Linked DNA regions of Homo sapiens. The protein of the gene in region 1 purifies or fractionates together with the protein of each later gene. This does not show direct contact. Each region holds a gene or a part of one and is shown in the gene's direction. Other genes may lie near its edges.

Region 1 (5,275 bases):
TTGACTTATATCTCAATAGCAGAACTTATTCAGATTCCTGAAGATATTTTACAATTATTAATACTGCTGAGAACTTGGGTGTTGAAGAGAGTATAAGGCATTAAAAGATCCATATAGTGGTTTCCCCAATTATACACTACAAGGCAATTTTACCTTATGTATTTATTTTGAATACACACATTATAATACATCATTTCAGTGTACCCTGGAAACAGTACTTACTTTGTACCTTTCACTACTACTATGTATTATTTTGGCATGAAAATGTACTATCCTAGTGTTGTAGCACTTCACCTATAATGTTTTCCCAGGAACCTATTGATTTGCCCCAAATTATATATGTTACCATATGTTTATATTTAATAATCTTTTTCAACTAATAATGACTAATAATAATCTGCATAAGTGCTTCCACAGGGCAAGCATTTACTGAATATGTGTCTGTAGTAATTTATCTTTAAAATGTCTCCATTTAAGTATTTTTGTTCAAATAAAAAAAATTTATCTCTACTTTTTGATTTACCACAGTGATTCCATCCCACTCCTTTTTTTTTTTTTTTATTAAAGAGATTGTCTAGACAGATTTTTTTTTTTTTATCAGATACCACAATTGAGCACGTAAGAATTCTCAGGAGGGAGGAATATCTTAAAGATTTCAACCTGGAATTCTCTGAGAAAAGGAAAAAGAAAAATCATATGATTAATCTTGTTTTCATTTGTTTTTAAGCCAGACTTTTTAGCTTCAAATTAATACTGATTAGATAACAAAATCATATTTTATTATTATAATAATAGTTGTACCTTTTGCTATTCCATTTCAGGACTCAGACGTCTACTAAGTAAACAGGAAACTGGGACTGAATTCAGTCAAGAACTTAGACAGCTTGTTGGCCTTTTAAGCCCAATGGTCTATCAGGAAGTAGAAGAGCAGGTATTAAGTTACAAAAAAAAAAAATTGCATGATATTTGCTGACTATATTAAACCTTAGTTTTCCTTAAATGTTCCTCACTTTCTTTCTCTTAAGATTTCAAGCAAAATACCCCCAAAACAGAAATATCTTTAAATTTTTTACTCAGGAGGTTGAGGCAGGAGGATTGCTTGAGTCCAGGAATTGGAGACTGCCCTATGATCACACCCATGAGTAGCCACTGCACCCCAGCCTGGTCAAAATAGCAAAACCCCATCTTTAAAATATAATGTTACAAAATTGTATCTCTCCGCCATTCAATCTGCTGGAAAACATAATTTCAATCTCCCATTTACATCTGTTTATAAATACTGCCACATCAGTTTCATTCATCATTTCTCATGAAAGCCCCATCTCTGATGTTTATCTTCTTTTATCTATAAGCTATTTAAACTTTTAAAACTGTTTTTCCAAAAAAAATCTCTAATTGTAGCAAACTGTATTTATGGTTACCTATGGCTACCCTTCTTGTTCTTTGAGATACAACAATAATGCCTTTTCCTTTGTGTAAGAAATGGTATTAATAAAATTATTTAGAAATTTGAGGCAGCAAGTTATTGATTATTTCATCATACTTCCTCTAGCATACTCAAAATGATGGCTCTAAATAGCCCATTCAACAGGAAGAGGCATATTGCTTTCTGATTTCCAGATAAAGACTTAAATATGGAAAACATCTAAAATGACTAAAGATATTTTTTAATTTAAAAGGAAAAGGGGACATTGTATATCCAAAATCCAAAACCAAAAAGACAATAAATTTAAAAATACAAGCAGAAACCATGAAAATAAGTCCAGTAAGGCAGGAGAATGGGTTGGGGGAGGCTGGAAGGAAGAGTGCAGAAGAAGGGAATTCCTTTTTTCTGTATATATGAACCATCGTGAGTTTAGATTAATCTCAAAACTATGCATATGCTCAAATTCATATTGATTAGGTAACAAAATCATAAAACTATATTTTATTATTAATAGTTGTACCCTTTGCCATTCCATTTGAGGACTCAGAAGTCTATTAAGTAAACAGGAGACTGGGACAGAATTCAGTCAAGAACTCAGACAGCTCACTGACCTTTTAAGCCCAATGGTCTATCAGGAGAATAGCATATCAAAAGCTTACAGAACTAAACAGAGATTCGAGCAACCATCCACAATGGTCAACAGAGCTTATAGTTTGAACCTAACTAGGTTGATTGCCTATTAAGTAAAAACATTAACATGTTAGCTCAAAAAAGATTATGAAAGGTCAGGCGGACTATGAAATCTTTGAAAAGGAAATGGAAGTGAGATTATTCTGGGAGAATTTGGAGCTAACTAGACTATATCTTGAGTATGTTCTAGAAATTGCCTTACCAAGCCTAACATACCTCCTTTGGGAGGTAAGGTTTAATATTCTTACCCATCTTGTTAGAGCTAGAGATTAATATTTGCCCTAACCTGATACTTTAAGAGGTAAACTTTTTTTTTTTTTTAAAGACCTTCCTAGAGATATCTCTAAATTATTTTCGGCATTTCAGAAACTACATCAAGCAGCATGCTTGATTCAAGCCTATTGGAAGGGTTTTCAGACAAGAAAGAGATTAAAGAAGCTTCCATCTGCTGTGATTGCTTTGCAGAGGAGTTTCAGGTAAAAAAATTTGGTGAGGGGATTGATGATCATAGAATCTTACTAGAGTACAGTTGAATTGAAATTTAGGTGATTTTTTTTTAATTTCCTAGTATGTTTCTTGTTATCTTTTCATTTTTTTTCCATACGTTTCTGGGTACCAACACTCCAGTAACCAGATGCACTTTCAAAGCAAAGGATGTAAGACAGGAATCTGATGTGTCAAATATGCAATCCTATCCACTTAATAAGATATTTGGGGAGGGGCCAAGCCTACAAAGGGAGCCAATGATAGTTATATTATTAAACCCTCTAAACCAACAGTTATCATAATTTCGTGTGTATAATTATAACAATAACATGTATGCGTATAAGAGTTTAAGTCTGTTAACCTGATTTTCCTGAATAAATATGGCATGGATGGATATCTTCATTGAATTATGATATAGTTCGGCATTTATTTCAAGTAGACTGAAAAGGAAATACTGAAGACATAGCCCACTTTCTGCAATGACTTAACCAATCCAGATCCTCCAAGGTCACAGAACAAGAAAAAATAACTTAGCTTCTAGGTAATTTATGGTAAAGAAGATCTGTTTCAGAGGTGACTTTTTCATGCAGCCTAACTTAAAGCCAAGCTTTAGTTTGCTAAAATGAAACTGGCATTTTACAGAAGTTAATTCTTTAAAGAAAACTGAAACTATTCTTTTAATAACTGCAGATGCATTTCTCAGTTATAAAAACATTTAAAAATAGCTCTGGGGTTCAAAATACTATGTAGTCACAGAGTTGAAGACATTGAAATCACTCTAGCTAACTGTGTCTCTTAGTGGGTATCCTATTAATTGATGAACGTTTTCTTCAGGGAAGAATTAAAGATGGATTTTAAATATTATTGGGCATGAATATTGTTGGTAGCAAAGAAAAGAATTAATTTTTAAATATATATCAAATGCCTAGTATATGATATATGTACTAGGCATTTAACAGATTCGAGTTTGTATCTCACTTGAGCAGCTTACTGGTTGAGTGAACTTGGACAATCCCCCACCTCTCTCAGCCTCAAACTTCCAATCTATAAAATGAGAATAATAGTTTATACACTTGTATGATCAAGATAATGTAAAATTTGAGATAATACAAAGTTTTTAGCATATTATCTGGCACTTAAAAAATGATAGAAGGAAAAATGCATATGGCACATTTTCTGTCCTTGAAAATTTACAAATCTAGGTAAACAAATAGATGCATTAAATAGGTAGTACTAATGAGAAGCAAGTATTATCCATCTATTATTACTCAAAGTTTATTGCCTATCTTACAAGCTGTTTTTTTTTTAAAAGCATTTCTGTGGTTAGATAAATTTGGGAAATATTGAGTACTTTTTGAGTCACAGTGTATATTTTTCTACCCAAAGCATCTGAGGTGCTCTTGGTATTGCCTCTGTGGTGAATTCAGATAGAGTAGGTATTACTTATGGATTCCACCTGCTATCATCCTTAGTTACCTGTCATCTTAAATTTAAGGGTACCCTTATACATGGATTCAGAGCATTAATGTTTAGTCCCACAAGAGTTCCCAAATTTGCTCATATACTCTCTCTTTCAATATTAAAATCTCTATTTAAAAGTAGCCCAGGATTACAGATTTTTTTCTACTTAGAAGTGTATCTATGGAATCTAATATTCCATTATTTTAAAATAGAAATTCCATTGCTTTCTTTATGTAACCAGAAGAGTTATAAATACTTCCATTAAAAAGATAAGCTGTGAAGCAAAAATTATTTAAGTCTCACATTTTGTGTTTGTTGCCTTTCCAGTATTTTTGCATTTGAGGTTCCAGAATATACTGAAATGCGGTTCTAACCTGTTGGATTCTATTTAATTTTTTAATTTTCAGTTTTCTCCAGTTCAGCACCTTCGCTCTTCTATTAGTTGTAACAGTTCATGCAAATGTCTCTTGCTTCCTTTGTAGCTTGGTTTTTTTTCAAAGGTTATTTCTGTCTTTTTGTGCTCAGGACTTATCTCAGTAATTTCCCCTTCCCATGGTTTTGGGAGAGAGACTGCCCACTGGTCACACTTATGGGTCCAGGTTGATTAGTGTTCTTTAGATTCAGCAAGAGGCATTCTTTTATAGTCACGCCCTTGCTAATGCACTTTCATAGTGGTTTCTTTTTTATTTAGTCATTTCTCGTATTCAGAAACTTTGTCTCTTAAGTACTCTTATTCAGCAAGGTTTTCTGAAGCGGCTAACAGCTGCTCTAGTTATCTTAGAGAAACCTCACAATTTACCTACCTCTATCATAGTGCTGATTTTTAAGTGTTTTAATTACATTTGTTGATTTCATCTTGAAACTGAGCTTCTTAAATGCAGATAGCATCTTTTTTCTCTCTCTCCCTCTGAGGCACAGTGTCTTGGCAGCAGAAAATTTGGTCAACTCCCACTTTAATGGTAAAAATTCAGATTGATTAAATGTAAATCATGGAATTTACTTATTTCAGAATATGACATCTGATCAGTCATTTCATCTTCAGAAGTGTAGTACAGATGCCAGGTGGTCCAGTGCCTACTAATTCTTACAAAGAAACCAGTTGGAAGAATAATTGTTTGATTTTTGAGTGATTAGAGAAACTCTGAACAAAATAACTCGATGTTATTTAATAATAAATGGGGGAATTACATTCAAAATCACTTCAGTTCCTAA
Region 2 (4,352 bases), on another chromosome or scaffold:
AGCAGTGATAAGTGCTGCCCTCTGATAGTGCAGTGTGGCAGTTGGGGTGGGAGAGGCTAATGAGATCAAGAAAACACGTAGCATGCCAGACAATAGTAAGTGTTAAGGGAAAGGGGGTGCAGAAAAGTGCACACAAGAATGAGCTGCAGTTCATTACATTGTTTTAGAGACAGGGTCATGTCCAGGCATGGTGGCTCACGCCTATAATCCCAGCACTCTGGGAGGCCGAGGCGGGCAGATCACTTGAGGTCAGGAGTTTGAGACCAGCCTGCCCAACATGGCGAACCCCATCCCTACTAAAAACACAAACATTCGGCAGGTGTGGTGGCACACTTGGGAGGTTGAGATAGGAGAATCGCTTGAACCCAGGAGGCGGAGCTTCCAGTGAGCTGAGATCACTGCACTCCAGCCTCCGCAACAGAGCAAGACTCTGTCTAAAAAAAAAAAAAGGGCCGGGCGCGGTGGCTCATGCCTGTAATCCCAGCACTTTGGGAGGCTGAGGCGGGCGGATCACGAGGCTAGGACATCGAGACCATCCTGGCTAACACGGTGAAACCCCGTCTCTACTAAAAATACAAAAAATTAACCAGGCGTGGTGGCGGGCGCCTGTAGTCCCAGCTACTCGGGAGGCTGAGGCAGGAGAATGGCGTGAACCCAGGAGGCGGAGCTTGCAGTGAGCAGAGATCGCGCCACTGCACTCTAGCCTGGGCGACAGAGCTAGACTCCATCTCAAAAAAAAAAAAAAAAAAAAGAGGGTCATGCTCTGTCGACCACACTGGAGTGCAGCGGAGTACTGATGGCCTAGGGAAGAACCTTTTCTTTGAAGGGGAAATGGTGAAGGCCCTGAGCAGGGCCTGCTTTGCTCAGGAATGGCCGTAAGTCCTATAGCATCAGCATCTTAGAGATGGGGATAGGGTGGCCAAAGCGTGTCAGTGGGTTTCCCTCAAGAAAGAGCTGGATCCGAAGTCGTCTGGACTCTAGAGCCATCCATTCCTCGGGGGGACCTCACCTGGATGGTCTGGGCGCACAGGGAGCAGCAGGCCCCTGGATCCCCCTGGTCTGGCTCAGGCTCCGCGTCATCAAAGGGACCTGCGCGGCGCCTTGGGGCCGGGGCCTGGGGCGGTGGAGGCCCGAAGGCCAGAGGCACGTGCGGCGGCGGCGGGAGGCAGAGGTCCTGGCGGAGGTCTGGGCGCACCCAGCGCAGCGTGAGCGGGAGGCGAGCCCAGGGCGGTGCGCGCAGCATGTGCGCCAGCACGCGCAGGTGGAAAGCGAAGGCTGTCTCTCCTCGCAGGCGAGGCCCCACGTGCGCCAGGCGGCGCGAGGCGTGCGGGTGCTGCCAAGCCCACTCAAACTGCGGGCGGCGTACAGGGGCATCAGGGCGGCTCGGAGCGAGGGGCGGAACCCAAGCCCTCACCCGGCCGCCGCTGCCCGGTCTCCTTCCTTACCCGAAGGGCGGCCACGGAGGACGGGAAGCCGTGCACGACGAGCACCATCTCCCTGAGGAGGAGAACCGTGATGTCCCTGTCGCAGCCCAGCGCCTCAGCCGCGGGTCCCCTCCAATCCCACCCGAGAGCGGGGTCCTCATTCCCGGCTTCAGCCGAGAAGTGCAGCCCTCTGCACCTGCCCACCTCAGGCCCTGCCTCCAGCCCAGGTACCCACCTGTCCCACCTCCTCTCTCTCCTGCATTCCACCCGACCCCAGCGTGCCCACCAAGAGCCCTATGCTGGAACCCAGCCTGGATCATCACCCCCGCCCCAGCTAGCTCCTTCCCTGAGTTCCGCCGCGGAGATGCCCCGGGCACCGCCTCCCCGTCACGCTCCTCCCCTGCGACAGGCCCCGTCCCCACCACAGACGCCCCGCCTCTGTCACAGTCCTGGCCGGTCCTTCTCAACAGGCCTGTGCCCCGCGGGGTCCGCCTCCTCTGGGACGCCTTCCTCCCGGCACAGAAGGCCTCCCCCTCTCACCAGGGCCCTCGCCCGCTGGTCCGCCAGGCCCCGCCTTTTTTGCGGCCCCCATTGTGCTGCTGGACCCGACGAGCAGTGTTGACAGTGAACCCCACGTAGACGCGGCCCCGGTACCGGGGGTTCAGGCAGTAGAGCAGGTAGACGCCGAAAAAGCGCCCTGGCCTCGCCGCGACCCCCGCGGGACCCATCGGGCCTTGGGGTTCGGGAACCACAGCAGGGGGTTGATTGCCGTGACCTAGGGTCCAGGGGAGGGCTGGATCGCTAGGGCTGCAGGGTGCTTGCTTCGGAACAAGCTCTCGGGGACTATCCGGAGGCAGCCTGCAGGAAGCCGTAGCGCCGGTACGTGCCCCTCTCCTGTCTGGAGGCGGGTGTAGAAGTCCGACCGCGGAAGCCAGACTGCTGTCCAGTCGGCGAGCGCGTACCATTCAGCATCGGCTCCGCCCGAGTCCCACCTTCCTCAGGCTCTGATTGGCTGACACATGGCAAGCGCGAAAAGCCTGGACCGCTGGAAAGCCCGGCTGCTTGAGGGCGGAAGTACTGCGTTGACGTACGCCTTAGTAAGGGCGGAAGTGAGTTTTCCAGCGGAAGTGGCTCCTGTAAGGCAGCAAGGTAGCGTGGCCGGCGCCCGAGCTGGGGTTGTGTCCCTGCTGGGCTGCCGTTCCAGCTGGACTGCCGCCATGGAACTCAGCGCCGAATACCTCCGCGAGAAGCTGCAGCGGGACCTGGAGGCGGAGCATGTGGTGAGTTGAGCCGCCGGACAAGGGGAAAAGAGCTCGGGGGGCGGGTTCGGCACCATTCATATTCTTCCGCTCGGTAGGAGGTGGAGGACACGACCCTCAACCGTTGCTCCTGTAGCTTCCGAGTCCTGGTGGTGTCGGCCAAGTTCGAGGGGAAACCGCTGCTTCAGAGACACAGGTAAGGCCCTGGGAGCACCTTGCCTAGCTCCTGTACCACAACCCCAGCCACTCCCCCTACCCCTGCAACCTGACTCCCGCACTCCCCCTGGCGTGGCTCAGGGACCTTGAGGATCCCGCCTTCGTGACCCCTGCTTCGAGTATTTCGATGTAGACCCTCTCTCCAAGTACGTGTTCCCACGGCCTGGGGACTACAACCTTGGGGACACCAGTCTCTTGGGTCACCCTAGCCTCGGGGTGTGCGATCACCGCTGGCCTTTTCCTAACCCCATCTCTCGCCCCAGGCTGGTGAACGCGTGCCTAGCAGAAGAGCTCCCGCACATCCATGCCTTTGAACAGAAAACCCTGACCCCAGACCAGTGGGCACGTGAGCGACAGAAATGAGGGACTGGGATCTGCACAGCCATTAAATTATAAATCTGGACCAGCTTCTGTGTCGATGTGTGTGTGGGAGGGGTGCTGAGGCCGAGTCTAGGACCTGGCCTCTCCCTGCCCTGCCTCCGTCCATTGTTTTACCTTGGACACGTCTCTGTCCCCATCTAGGCCTCTATCCCTGCTTGTAAAATGAAAGTTCTACCGTAAAAGTCCCTTCCAGGGTCTACCGAGAAAGCCTTCTCTCTGCAACTCCGTTTAGACATCTAGGAGTCTGTACTGCCACCACCTACCCACCTCCTAGAGAGCTCAGGGTTCCTCCTCTCTGCTAGCCTTCAAGATGCAGAGATGAGAAAGTGATCGGGGTTTCAGGGCCCTGACCAGTTGAACAAACCTCTCCCTGACATTACCGCAGTATCAGAGGCACCATATAGAATTCCACATATTCCTTGCAGGTTCCCCCCGGCCTTCTCAGGCCCAAGAGGGAGTGGTGCCCAGGTAGGGGCTCATCAACTCCTGGAATGCTGATGTTTTCAGACCCACTGGAGAAGGTTCCAGTGGCCCCATAGCCCTGGGCTTAATGTGTCTACAGCTGCCCCCGGAGGACCATGGAGGTTTTAAGAATAGTGGGTGTGGGACGGGGATAGGGGTGAGATTAGAGTAGGAATATAAGGCTGACCTGAGTCAGAAAATTGGGGCAGGTGATGCCCCTGTATCAGTCTTCATAACAGGTTAGTAGGGTTGCTAGGACCTTGTTTGTTTTATTTGTTTTTTGTTGTTTGAGACAGGGTCTTGCTCTGTCGCCCAGGCTGGAGTGCCGTGGCGCCATCTCAGCTCATTGCAACCTCTGCCTCCCAGGTTCAAAAGATTCTTGTGCTTCAGCCTCCTGAGTAGCTGGGATTACAGGGGTGCACCACCATGCCCGGCTAATTTTTGTACTTTTAGTAGAGACAGGGTTTCACCATGTTGGCCAGGCCAGTCTCAAACTCCTGGCCTCAAGTGATCTGCCCGCCTTGGTCTCCTAAAGTGCTGGAATTTTAGGCGTGAGCCATTGTACCTGGCCCAGATTGCTAGGACTTTGAACAGAGGTCCCTGAGACCTA
Region 3 (5,275 bases), on another chromosome or scaffold:
AATCTAAAATCATTTGGGTTTGTTCTGGTTTTAAGAAAAGGTAAGCATTTAAGAAATCCCTCAGAGGATAAGGAACATTTTAAAGACTTAAATTTTAGTGTTGTATACATGAAAGGTACAGAAGTTATGGGGTCTGACTCAGGCCCAGAGAGATTATATGAATAGTCCAGGCTTACAAGTTTACAGAGTTCACTGAAAGCAAAGCCTAGAAATGATTTTAAGATGTTAAGGAAGAAATCCTGGGCAGATTCAAACCCCAGCTCTGTTACTTAAGAGATGTCAGTGGCTTCTGAACCCTTCTGACTCTTAAAGTCGTATTGCACTTACATTTTATTTACTGTGGATAGTATGTAAATAACGTGTGAAACCACAGCGTCAGCTGTACAATGATATCCTTTAAATTTCTGGTCCAGGTTTTTCATCGTACCATGTTACTTGCCTTCTTAATATGGCTTAGTGATTTATATTTTTTGTTCTAATTAATATGGTATATATGTTCCAAGTCAGCATATTGCTTTGCAGTTTAATTTTGGATTTGGCAGTTTCCTTATTTCAGGGAATTCAGAATCAATAGTCAGAATCATTTAGAAAATAGTGATAAGGGGATGGTGGTTTGTTACTGCTTTGCCTGGGGAAGAAAAAAAAAACAGTTGAAAGAGAAAAGAAAAAAGATGATAGAAGGAGCTATCGGCCGTATGCTCTTCTACATCCTGTTACTAGTTCCCATCATACTACAGTTATAAATTAGTTTCATATATCCTTCAGAGTCTGGTATACCACTGCTGCTTTCTCAACTAAGATATCACATAGGTGATTATGCTTTTATTTAGGGTTTCACATAGGTGTTAAGAAAATTTCTAGCTGGTAGAATTGGAGGAAATGTTAGAGATAACATGGCCTAATGCCTCCTAAATGTATAGAAATGAGAATGTGCCATTACCAGTGATACTTTCTGGCACCTTACTTGTGCATTCTGGAACCTTACTTGTGCAGTCTGTGGAAATATAAAATCCTAAGGCATGGTCCCTAACATTGATTTAGAGGCAAGTGTACCTGCATGAAATACTGTGTAAAACATGGAAGAACATAAAGTGATAAACTGAAGTAGATGTGTAGGTATATATCAATTTTTGTTATGCTACTTTCAAGGAAATTTAGCAACATTTCACCTTTATTCTTTTACACATCTAAATAACAAGTATGTTTTTTGTTTGTTTGTTTGTTTGTTTGTTTGTTTTGGTCTTTAACTTTGTAGGCTAACATCCAGTCAATCATGGCATCTGAAAAACAAGTCAACATCCTGATGAAATTGCTAGATGAGGCTCTAAAGGAGGTAGATCAGATTGAATTGAAACTGAGCAGTTATGAGGAAATGCTCCAAAGTGTAAAAGAACAAATGGATCAGATCTCTGAAAGCAACCACCTAATTCATCTTAGTAACACTAATAATGTAAAACTCCTATCTGAGATAGAGTTCCTTGTGGTAAGTATGATCATAAATTACCAACAAAAAAAAACTAGTGATGATATATAAAACCCATTTGTAAACATTTTTTAATTTCCTTGTGAGAACAGGATTTAAAATAATTCCAAAGACCTAATGATAGGACTGAATAGCATCTTGCCTGTAAATTTCCCAAAATTACACATGCAAATGGTGTGTTTGCATATATTCTAGAACCACATGGACTTGGCCAAAGGTCATATAAAGGCCCTTCAGGAAGGAGATCTTGCTTCTTCCAGAGGCATTGAGGCCTGCACCAATGCTGCTGATGCCCTTCTGCAGTGCATGAATGTAGCTCTTCGACCAGGTATGTTCATTAGAAATGACAAAAATGTGACCAAGAATGTGAGACTAAGCCTGTAACTTGTTATAAAGGTTTTGACAAGAAATACATGAGACAAGTGGTTTAAGGGTTACATTATTAGCTATTCAAGTTTCACTGATTTCCCAACTTATTTCTATTGATACTAGGAACTTTTTTACTTCAGTTCCTCCTTCTAATTGTCCTCAATGACTATAGTCAACACCATGATCTTTATTTAGTACTATCCACAGAACCCAGCAGAAAGTAGGTGCTTTGGTTAGACGAGAGCAATTATTTCAAAACTTGAGTGTCCGTCAGAATCCCTAGAGGTCTTGTTAAAAACATAGATTGCCTGGCCCCAGTCCCAGATTCAGCAGATCTGGGCTGAGATTTTAGAATCCACATTTCTAACAGTTCCCAGGCGATGGTGAGGCAAGACCACACTTTGAGAACTACTGTGAAATCCCATTTTTCTCCTGCTTAACTTTTATCATGTAAATGAATACACCCATAAAACTTTTGGGTTCTTCAAAACGTTAGATACGTTTAATGTTCCATTAAACATCAAGGAAATCTTTTTACCCATTAAACTGGTCACAAAATGTCGTTCTGTGTCAGGCCATGACTTGCTTCTGGCAGTCAAACAGCAACAGCAGCGATTCAGTGATTTGCGAGAGCTTTTTGCCCGGAGACTGGCCAGTCACCTCAACAATGTTTTTGTTCAACAGGTAATTTTATTTTATTATTAAAACGAGCATGTTCCTATAGCTTATTTATGTATTAACCTTACATTTCCACAAAAATGTTAATATGTTTAATTGGGGTTGCAGTCAATTCCTTCACATATTTGATTTTAAGATTTTGAAATAGGAGCCTCTTTGCTCATAGATGTACTTTGGGCCTCAGCTGCCTCTTTTGGTAGACAGTCTAGTTCCTTTCAGCTGATGCTCTCTGATTCTAGAAATCAAATAACTATGCATATGAATTGCATATACTACTTAGATATTTTTATTTATAAAGTAAGTCCAAACTTGTTAGATATTTACTATTGGACCTGTTTTATTTTTCAGTATTTTGAGGTGAGACTCAGGACTTGATTCAGTGTTTTAAATGTTTTGTAAGTTCTATGTACTTAGTACATAGTATAATTGTTAAGAAAATGACTAGCTCAACTGCAAATTTCAGTTGATCTAATCTTCATATAAATGCTTTACCTATATTTTTATATGGAAAAGGATGTTATAATTAAGAGTGTGGTAATAATATTGTTATTAATAATATTAAGAGTACCTTTGAGGGATTTGAATAAAAGCCATTTTAATATCTAATACAATAAATTAGGTTTCTTATTTTTTCATCTCTTTTAAAAGTCCCTTTTATTTTATTAGAGTTATAGAATGAAAAAAAATTGGGGGAATATCTCGTTCATCAAGAAATACTGCCTGAAAACAATGGATTTTTACTTTATTTTCACTTTGCAATATTCTAAAACAATTGTATTTACTATATTTTATTTCCAATTAGTTTACTCAGGCCCTCCTTCAACTCTATAACAGGTCCTACTTTCTTTCGGTTCCTGTGAGTACATCAAATTTGGCTCAAGCTTCTCTGATTCTGTTTTTTTTTTTCTATAAAGTTTGCTAAACTTAACAGCAGCCGAATCTTTACAGATTATAACTTACTGATTTAAGCTACCTGTTAACCACATTCGTAGCAGTTTTTAAATGTCCCATAGTAGAGACTATTTTGGCCAAAAAAGCATTTAATCTCATTCTGCTTGCTTTTCTTTCTGTCATTTTTTCACTCCATTTAGTAATAAATAGTAATATTACTCCTTCATTTAGTAATAGTAGTAATATTAATCCTTCATTTATTTAGTATTGCCAGGTGATTGAGGTACATACCAGACATTAACTTGGGATAAATGAGAGACCAATCCTGTCCTCTAGTAGTTCACAGTCTAGGGAAGCGAGACAAACAAATAATATACTCAAGAGGGATAAATGTTATGACAGCGAGACTGTGGGAGTGTAAAGGAAGACCACCTAACTAAAAGCACGGTAGGGGGGAATCAGAGAGATTCCCTTAACATTCCACTTGACTGAAAAGTGTCGAGAAAAAAGTAAGCTTAAATGTCACATAGGAAATACTAATTCATGTTTTTGTTAGGTACTTACTTCAATAACATCTATTTCTATACAATTCCTTAGTTTTTAAAAATGACACTGTTGACAATTATGTTATCCACATTTGTTAGATAGTATTGAAAATACCAGCCAGTAAACAATAGTCTTTTCTGTACCCTTAACTGTTTGTTGTAACATGCAGTTATTTATGATTTTGCTTCTTGCCTTGTAAACTAATGGCCTCGTTTAAAATGAATGCTTCCCATTTCTGAAAAGCTGATATGTGTTATTACATGTGAGTGATGCATGTTAAAAATCAGAACGCTGCGACAACCTGGGGTGTGCCAAAAACGGTGGAAGAAGATATCCCACACATAAGAAAGATTTTCTTAGTGTTGCATTCAGTGCATCAGGTCACCTAGCAAAATTGTTGAGAAACATGGGTATTTCTATTCCTGGTAGGGAGACAAGCTGGGAAAATTGATTAAAATAATATGGTACACCTCTTTGGCAATCACAGAATTTTCATTGTATGCTTATTATGTACTCACTGTCTACCATATATAAGAATAAGCAATAGTTCCTACCCTCAAGATGCTTGTAAGAAGGAATTAAAACTAATGTACTTACTCTTTGTAAGGAGTTAAGACTAATGTACATTAGCAATGTATGTAATAAATTGCTAATTGTAGAACTGTGGACTGTAAGTGCTAAAAAGGTTTAATCAAAAGTGAGTTTATTGAGAATTTAAGGAGTGAGATATGGAAGGAATTGCAGATAAGGTAGGACTTGAACGAGTCCATGCAATACAGTTTATAGCAAATGTATAGTTACAACATTTACAAATATTGTACTGAAGAATCCAGTGAAAATAATCTATTCACAATATAACAGTAATTTCAAAGCATTGATTCTCAGTCTTTTTAAAATTCACAAATTAGTAAAATTAAAAGAAATAAAATTCGGAGACTGACCAAATCACCAATTTTTTTATTTTACCAAATAAAGACCTTTAAAAAGAAATACTATTATCCACTTTCATTATCTTTTCATTTTAAAAATGACATTTTGGCACTAAAAGAATAAGAATTTCCTTTCCGATTTTAAAAATTAATACATTTACCCTTATGAAGGACTCACTTCTTTCATTGTACTTTTTCTTATTGCTATAGGCCAGGAAAAACATCTTGCATTTGGGAATGACTGATCCAGAGCATGCTATCTGTAATGCAACTTTCCTATTAATACTTCTGTGTTATCTATACTTAAGTGAAACTTGAAGTGTATTTTAATATAATAATCACTGTAATATAATATGAGAGTAATGTTACATAAAGAGTA
Region 4 (5,883 bases), on another chromosome or scaffold:
TGTAGTTCCAGCTACTTGGGAGGCTACGGCAGGAGAATCACTTGAATCCAGGAGGTAGAGGTTGCAGTGAGCCAATATTGCGCCACTGCACTCCAGCCTGGGCGACAGAGCGAGACTCCATCTCAAAAAAATAAAATAAAATAAGGAGAATATTTCAGCAATTCCAGAATGAGGACATAAGAAGCCAAAGGTGGTATCAGTTGTAATGAAAAAGAATGTGAGAAACACTGAAGTGGAAATAATCAACAGGACCATGCAACTAACTGGATATGAAGGAAAGAAAAAAGCTGTAAAAGATAAGCAAGGACTTCAAGCCTTTTTGACTAGAAGACCACTGCTGTCATTCTTTCAGGTGTTCATTTGGCAAATATGTATTAAGCATACAGTGGGTACAGAAATGAATAGTAAGTACTTGTATTTAAAAGCTCACAATCCGGTAGGAGATAAATGTAATTTCTAACCAGGTAAAATGTAAAAGGGCCTTAAGAGAGGTACACATGCTATCAGTGGCAGAGTGAAAAACCACTGGAAGGAGGCAGAAAGACTAGTTGCACTGCAGGGGTGACTGCAAAATAATATATGCTCAGTAAACAGACGCACTCCGCATTTTCCACATCATCCAAGTGTGAAACACAAAGATCTCCTGTTTAATTCTATTCTGATGATTGGGCTTGGAAAGGGTTGCCAATTTCAGCATTAAAAATACAGCATAGGCCAGGCGCAGTGGTTCACACCTGTAATCCCAGCACTTTGGGAGGCCGGGGCAAGCGGATCACCTGAGGTCAAGAGTTTGAGACCAGCGTGGCCAATATGGTGAAACCCCATCTCTACTAAAAATACAAAAATTAGCCAGGCGTGAGGCCGGGCACGGTGGCTCATGCCTGTAATCCCAGCACTTTGGGAGGCCGAGGTGGGTGGATCACGAGGTCAGGAGATCAAGACCATCCTGGCTAACAAGCGGATCACCTGAGGTCAAGAGTTTGAGACCAGCGTGGCCAATATGGTGAAACCCCATCTCTACTAAAAATACAAAAATTAGCCAGGCGTGAGGCCGGGCACGGTGGCTCATGCCTGTAATCCCAGCACTTTGGGAGGCCGAGGTGGGTGGATCACGAGGTCAGGAGATCAAGACCATCCTGGCTAACACGGTGAAACCCCGTCTCTACTAAACACACACACACACACACACACACACACACACACACACACACACACAAATTAGCCTGTTGTGGAGGCAGGCGCCTGTAATCCCAGCTACTCGGGAGGCTGAGGCAGGAGAATCGCTTGAACCTGGGAAGCAGAGGTTGCAGTGAGCAGAGATCGTGCCACTGTGTTCCAGCCTGGGGGACACAGCAAGACTTGGTCTCAAAAAACAAACAAACAAACAAACAAAAACAATACAGCATATGCAGAGTCTGCTGGGGGAAAGATGGGGCCGAACTGGGCATCAGAGGAAAGTGGAATTTCGGTGTTGATAGATGTTGCTGCTAGAATCCAACAAGGAAGGCCAGAGACTGACTTCATAGAACCATAAAGCAGGAGGCAACATTTCATACATATGCACACTTCCCGGTTTGTTATAGTTCCCAAAAGATTTGAAAAATGAAGGTGGGTGGAGGGAGGAAGAGGCAATGAAATATAGTATGTTCCTGAATAAAAGGCATCATCTTAGCAAGTTGAAGTTAGAGAATCTCTTGGTACATATTTATGCAGTCTCAACCGTCCTCCCGTCTCTGAGATGGTAAATTACTACTGACACTTATTCAGGTCTGAACTGAGAATCTAGTTTGTGGATTAACTGGACCCTTTGCTTTTTCTTCTTCCATCTGCCTTTTAGGCAATTCATTACTTATTCGAATTTCCACCAGAAGGTAGGAGTCAAGAGAACGAATATTGGATATTAATAACCGGTTACTGTTAAAGAAGGGTTGCTGTATGGCGACTGACAACAAGAGGTATAGCACTTTTATTTTGTTGCGTTGTTTTACCACTAATTGCTGTGGTTTAACTAATATAGGGAAATGGCCTCAGAATGGATCATTATTTTACCCAATTTTAGAAGGTGCCCTTAAACAAGATGGCAACCTCAGGCGCGTTAACAAGGTGCTGAAGCAGCAGCGATGTAACCTGTTGCTTGGACACCAGGCTGGAGTGGGAGGACTCACCGCTAAGGGTTCAGAACCGATTTTCAACCAGTCACGCCCTTCTCAAAGATGGCCGACCTCACTTCCCTTACGCAACATGGACGTTTTCAGTCACTTCCTGTGATTTTGAGGTTATTCTGATCCAGGACTACTTGCATGACCAAAGCCAAGATGGCAGGTACGTCCTTTTAGAATTTAAGGTTAGTGAAGCCATCTATTTCCCCGACCCCCTTCAGTGAAAATGGTCTTTCGCATCTGGCTCTTCTTTTTGGAGGCGTGCTTGCCAGCAGTCAAAATGGCTCCATTCCGGAATAGATTTAATAGGAAGTGAAGCTGTGACGGCGAGGCGTTGCCCGGCCTATCTTTGCTAGGCGTTCTCAGAATTAGTTCTTTCTGCCCACACTAGACATGGCGCTTGCCAGCGTGTTGGAGAGACCGCTACCGGTGAACCAGCGCGGGTTTTTCGGACTTGGGGGTCGTGCAGATCTGCTGGATCTAGGTCCAGGGAGTCTCAGTGATGGTCTGAGCCTGGCCGCGCCAGGCTGGGGTGTCCCAGAAGAGCCAGGAATCGAAATGCTTCATGGAACAACCACCCTGGCCTTCAAGGTGTGGAGCCAGCCCCCTTGCCAGGCTGAGTACTGAACGCCCGCGACTTGCCTGGCCTCCCAGCCTGACCGGAGTTTGCGGTGGCCTTGGCCACCAACCCAGGCGGAGGCTGGGTCCTCTCGTTCGGACCGCAGCAGTTTTGCTGTCTCATTGGCCCAGGAGGCCCCTGTCTTTGCTCTGGTTGGAAAGGGTGGCGGTGGGGCCGGGGGTAAGTCGGGGGAGGAAGGTGAGGCCTCTTGGGTTGATTCCTAGGCGACCCCAGGTTGCTGCTGTTCAGGATCTTCTAGCTGGGAAAGGCCGCAACAACAATGAATCTTGGCCGAGGGAAGGCTATTGTAAACGTTTACCAAAGTTTTGGAAACTGGGCGGCCCCTCAAGGCAGGGGTAACTGAAACTGGCATGAAGGGGAAGCGTGGTGAGGGTAAGCATTGTACTAAGAATCAGACATTTGGGGTTCCTTGCCCAGCTCTGCAATAACTAGCTCTAGATTGAGAAATCATTTGATTTCATTGAACCTGTTTCCTCATCTATAAAATGATTTGTTTTTTTTTTTTTTTTGAAACAGGGCTTTTCGCTGTCGCTCAGGCTGGAGTGCAGTGGCTCCAGCGCCTCAGCCTCCAGAGTAGCTGACACTATAGGCACACACCACCACGACAGGCTAAGTTTTTTTACTTTTTGTAGAGATGGATCTCCCTGTGTTGCCCAGGCTGGTCTCCAGCACCTGGCCTCAAGCGGTCCTCCCGCCTTGGTCTCCCAAAATGCCTGGGTTACAGGAGTGAGCCACCACGCCCATCCTATAAAATGAATTTAATATGGGTTATATCCATGTCAAGGGATTGATGTGAAGCTCGGGTGACATTAATATATGGTGAAGTATAGAAGTATACTGTGAAGTATAAAAGGACGGAGAAAGAGATGTGCTGGGTTTGGATTGATGCAAAAAGAAGTATGTAGGAGTGTTTTTGTGGTCTTATGTGGCCTGTTTTGTGTTTTCCTCTGATCTTAACAGTTCCGCCATGGAGTCATAGTTGCAGCTGACTCCAGGGCTACAGCGGGTGCTTACATTGCCTCCCAGACGGTGAAGAAGGTGATAGAGATCAACCCATACCTGCTAGGCACCATGGCTGGGGGCGCAGCGGATTGCAGCTTCTGGGAACGGCTGTTGGCTCGGCAATGTCGAATCTATGAGCTTCGAAATAAGGAACGCATCTCTGTAGCAGCTGCCTCCAAACTGCTTGCCAACATGGTGTATCAGTACAAAGGCATGGGGCTGTCCATGGGCACCATGATCTGTGGCTGGGATAAGAGAGGCCCTGGTGAGTTAAGCTGCAACCACATGATCCTTGGGCTGACACTACAGTGAGGAGGGGTTGGATGGACAGATGAATTAAAGGGCTTGGTGTCAATGCTGAAGAAGTGTAATTAGGTCCTTAGCCCTTCCTTCTCTCTTTTTTTTTTTCCTGTTTTTTTAGACTGTGTCTCATTCTGTCGCTCAGGCTGGAGTGCAGTGGCATGATCTCAGCTCACTGCAGCCTCCGCCCCCAGGTTCAGGAATTCAAGACCAGCCTGGCCAACATGGCGAAACCCCATCTCTACTAAAAATACAAAAATTAGCCCGGCGTGGTGGCGGGCGCCTGTAATACCAGCTGCTCAGGAGGCTGAGGCATGAGAATTGCTTGAACCCAGGAGGTGGATGTTGCAGTGAGCAGAGATCGCGCCACTGCACTCCAGCCTGGGCGACAGAGTGAGACTCTGTCTCAAAAAAAAGAATTTAAGAATTCGTTGAAGGCCGGGCGTGGTGGCTCACTCCTGTAATCCCAGCACTTTGGGAGGCTGAGACAGTGGATCACGAGGTCAGGAGATCGAGACCATCCTGGCTAACAAGGTGAAACCCCGTCTCTACCAAAAATACAAAAAATTAGCCAGGCGTGGTGGCAGGCGCCTGTAGTCCCAGCTACTCAGGAGGCTGAGGCAGGAGAATAGTGTGAACCCAGGAGGCGGAGCTTGCAGTGAGTCGAGATGGTGCCACTGCACTCCAGCCTGGGCAACAGAGCGAGACTCTGTCTCAAAAAAAAAAACAAAAAAAAGAATTCGTTGAATCCCACATGTGGCAGTAGTGCTATTTCAAGTGTTCATTGACCATGTGTGGCTTGTGGCTACTGTATTGGACTCTAATATATGGTTGTCCCTCAAAAGTTAGTCATTTCTCTTCTGTTTTTTTCTTTTTTTCTTTTTTTGAGATGCAAAGTTTCACTCCGATCGTCCAGTCTGGCGTGTAATGGCATTGTTTCAGCTCACTACAACCTCTGCCTCCTGGGTTCAAGTGATTCTCCTGCCGCAGTCTCCCAAGTACCTGGGATTACAAGCGCCCACCAGCATGCCCAGCTAATTTTATATTTTTAGTAGAGATGGGGTTTCACCATGTTGGCCAGGCTGGTCTCGAAATCCTGACCTCAGGTGATTCACCCGCCTCAGCCTCCCAAAGTGCCAGGATTAAAGGCGTGAGCCGCTGCACCCGGCCTCTTCTCTTTTTTTCTTTAGAGAGTCTTTGGCCTAGAAGGGGCCTTTTGGGCTCCTCTCTTTTTTGAGGGGGTGGGGATGGAGTCTCGCTCTGTCGCCCCGACTGGAGTGCAGCGGCGGGATCTCAGCTCACTGCAATCTCTGCCTCCCAGGTTCAAGTGATTCTCCTGCCTCAACCTTCCATGTAGCTGAGACTACAGGCATATGCCACCATGCGCGTCTAATTTTTGTATTTTTAGTAGAGACAGGGTTTCACCATGTTGGCCAGGCTGGTCTTGAACTCCTGACCTCAGGTGATCTGCCCACCTCAGCCTGCCAAAGTGTTGAGATTACAGGAGTGAGCCATTGCGCCTAGTCCTGGGCTCATTTCTTTTATTTCTTTGCTGGTTATAATCACCCTTACAATCATGCTAGGTCCGGTTCTATCATCTCTGAAAATAAGTTCCTTAGCCTGTTTTTCCTTTCCAGCATTTAAGAAACTTGCCAGACAGTTCAACTTTGTATTTAATGTCATTTCCTCATCAGCCAGTTTTGAATTGCCCGTTTAGTAAAGTTGGAGTATAGCTAGTCACCTTCTAATTTTCCCTTCCATATGCTTAAAAATAATTATTCT

The links. Proteins that work in one complex are often made in the same cells at the same time.
Region 2: the proteins of IQCB1 (region 1) and BOLA2 purify together in Homo sapiens (affinity purification with mass spectrometry, with the first as the bait; one large-scale study listed by BioGRID). This does not show direct contact.
Region 3: the proteins of IQCB1 (region 1) and EXOC1 purify together in Homo sapiens (affinity purification with mass spectrometry; 4 studies listed by BioGRID and IntAct, with this or other methods). This does not show direct contact.
Region 4: the proteins of IQCB1 (region 1) and PSMB5 purify together in Homo sapiens (affinity purification with mass spectrometry; one large-scale study listed by BioGRID and IntAct). This does not show direct contact.

What each region holds. Positions count from the first base shown.
Region 1 is NC_000003.12:121,792,774-121,798,048, reverse strand, and holds part of IQCB1 (IQ calmodulin-binding motif-containing protein 1), read left to right. Parts: intron 1-821; coding exon 822-931; intron 932-2,482; coding exon 2,483-2,592; intron 2,593-5,275. UniProt on the Homo sapiens protein: Involved in ciliogenesis. The function in an early step in cilia formation depends on its association with CEP290/NPHP6.
Region 2 is NC_000016.10:29,452,543-29,456,894, reverse strand, and holds BOLA2 (bolA-like protein 2), read left to right. Parts: upstream 1-2,641; coding exon 2,642-2,704; exon of another isoform or gene 2,705-2,781; coding exon 2,782-2,879; intron 2,880-3,162; coding exon 3,163-3,262; 3' UTR 3,263-3,302; downstream 3,303-4,352. Other genes in the region: SLX1B (structure-specific endonuclease subunit SLX1), read right to left, coding at 1,010-1,351, 1,446-1,497, 1,965-2,152; BOLA2-SMG1P6 protein, read left to right, coding at 2,444-2,704, 2,820-2,879. UniProt on the Homo sapiens protein: Acts as a cytosolic iron-sulfur (Fe-S) cluster assembly factor that facilitates [2Fe-2S] cluster insertion into a subset of cytosolic proteins. Acts together with the monothiol glutaredoxin GLRX3.
Region 3 is NC_000004.12:55,869,423-55,874,697, forward strand, and holds part of EXOC1 (exocyst complex component 1), read left to right. Parts: intron 1-1,255; coding exon 1,256-1,483; intron 1,484-1,678; coding exon 1,679-1,811; intron 1,812-2,426; coding exon 2,427-2,536; intron 2,537-3,332; coding exon of another isoform or gene 3,333-3,386; intron 3,387-5,275.
Region 4 is NC_000014.9:23,031,551-23,037,433, reverse strand, and holds the start of PSMB5 (proteasome subunit beta type-5), read left to right. Parts: upstream 1-2,533; 5' UTR 2,534-2,552; coding exon 2,553-2,750; intron 2,751-3,759; coding exon 3,760-4,066; intron 4,067-5,883. UniProt on the Homo sapiens protein: Component of the 20S core proteasome complex involved in the proteolytic degradation of most intracellular proteins. This complex plays numerous essential roles within the cell by associating with different regulatory particles.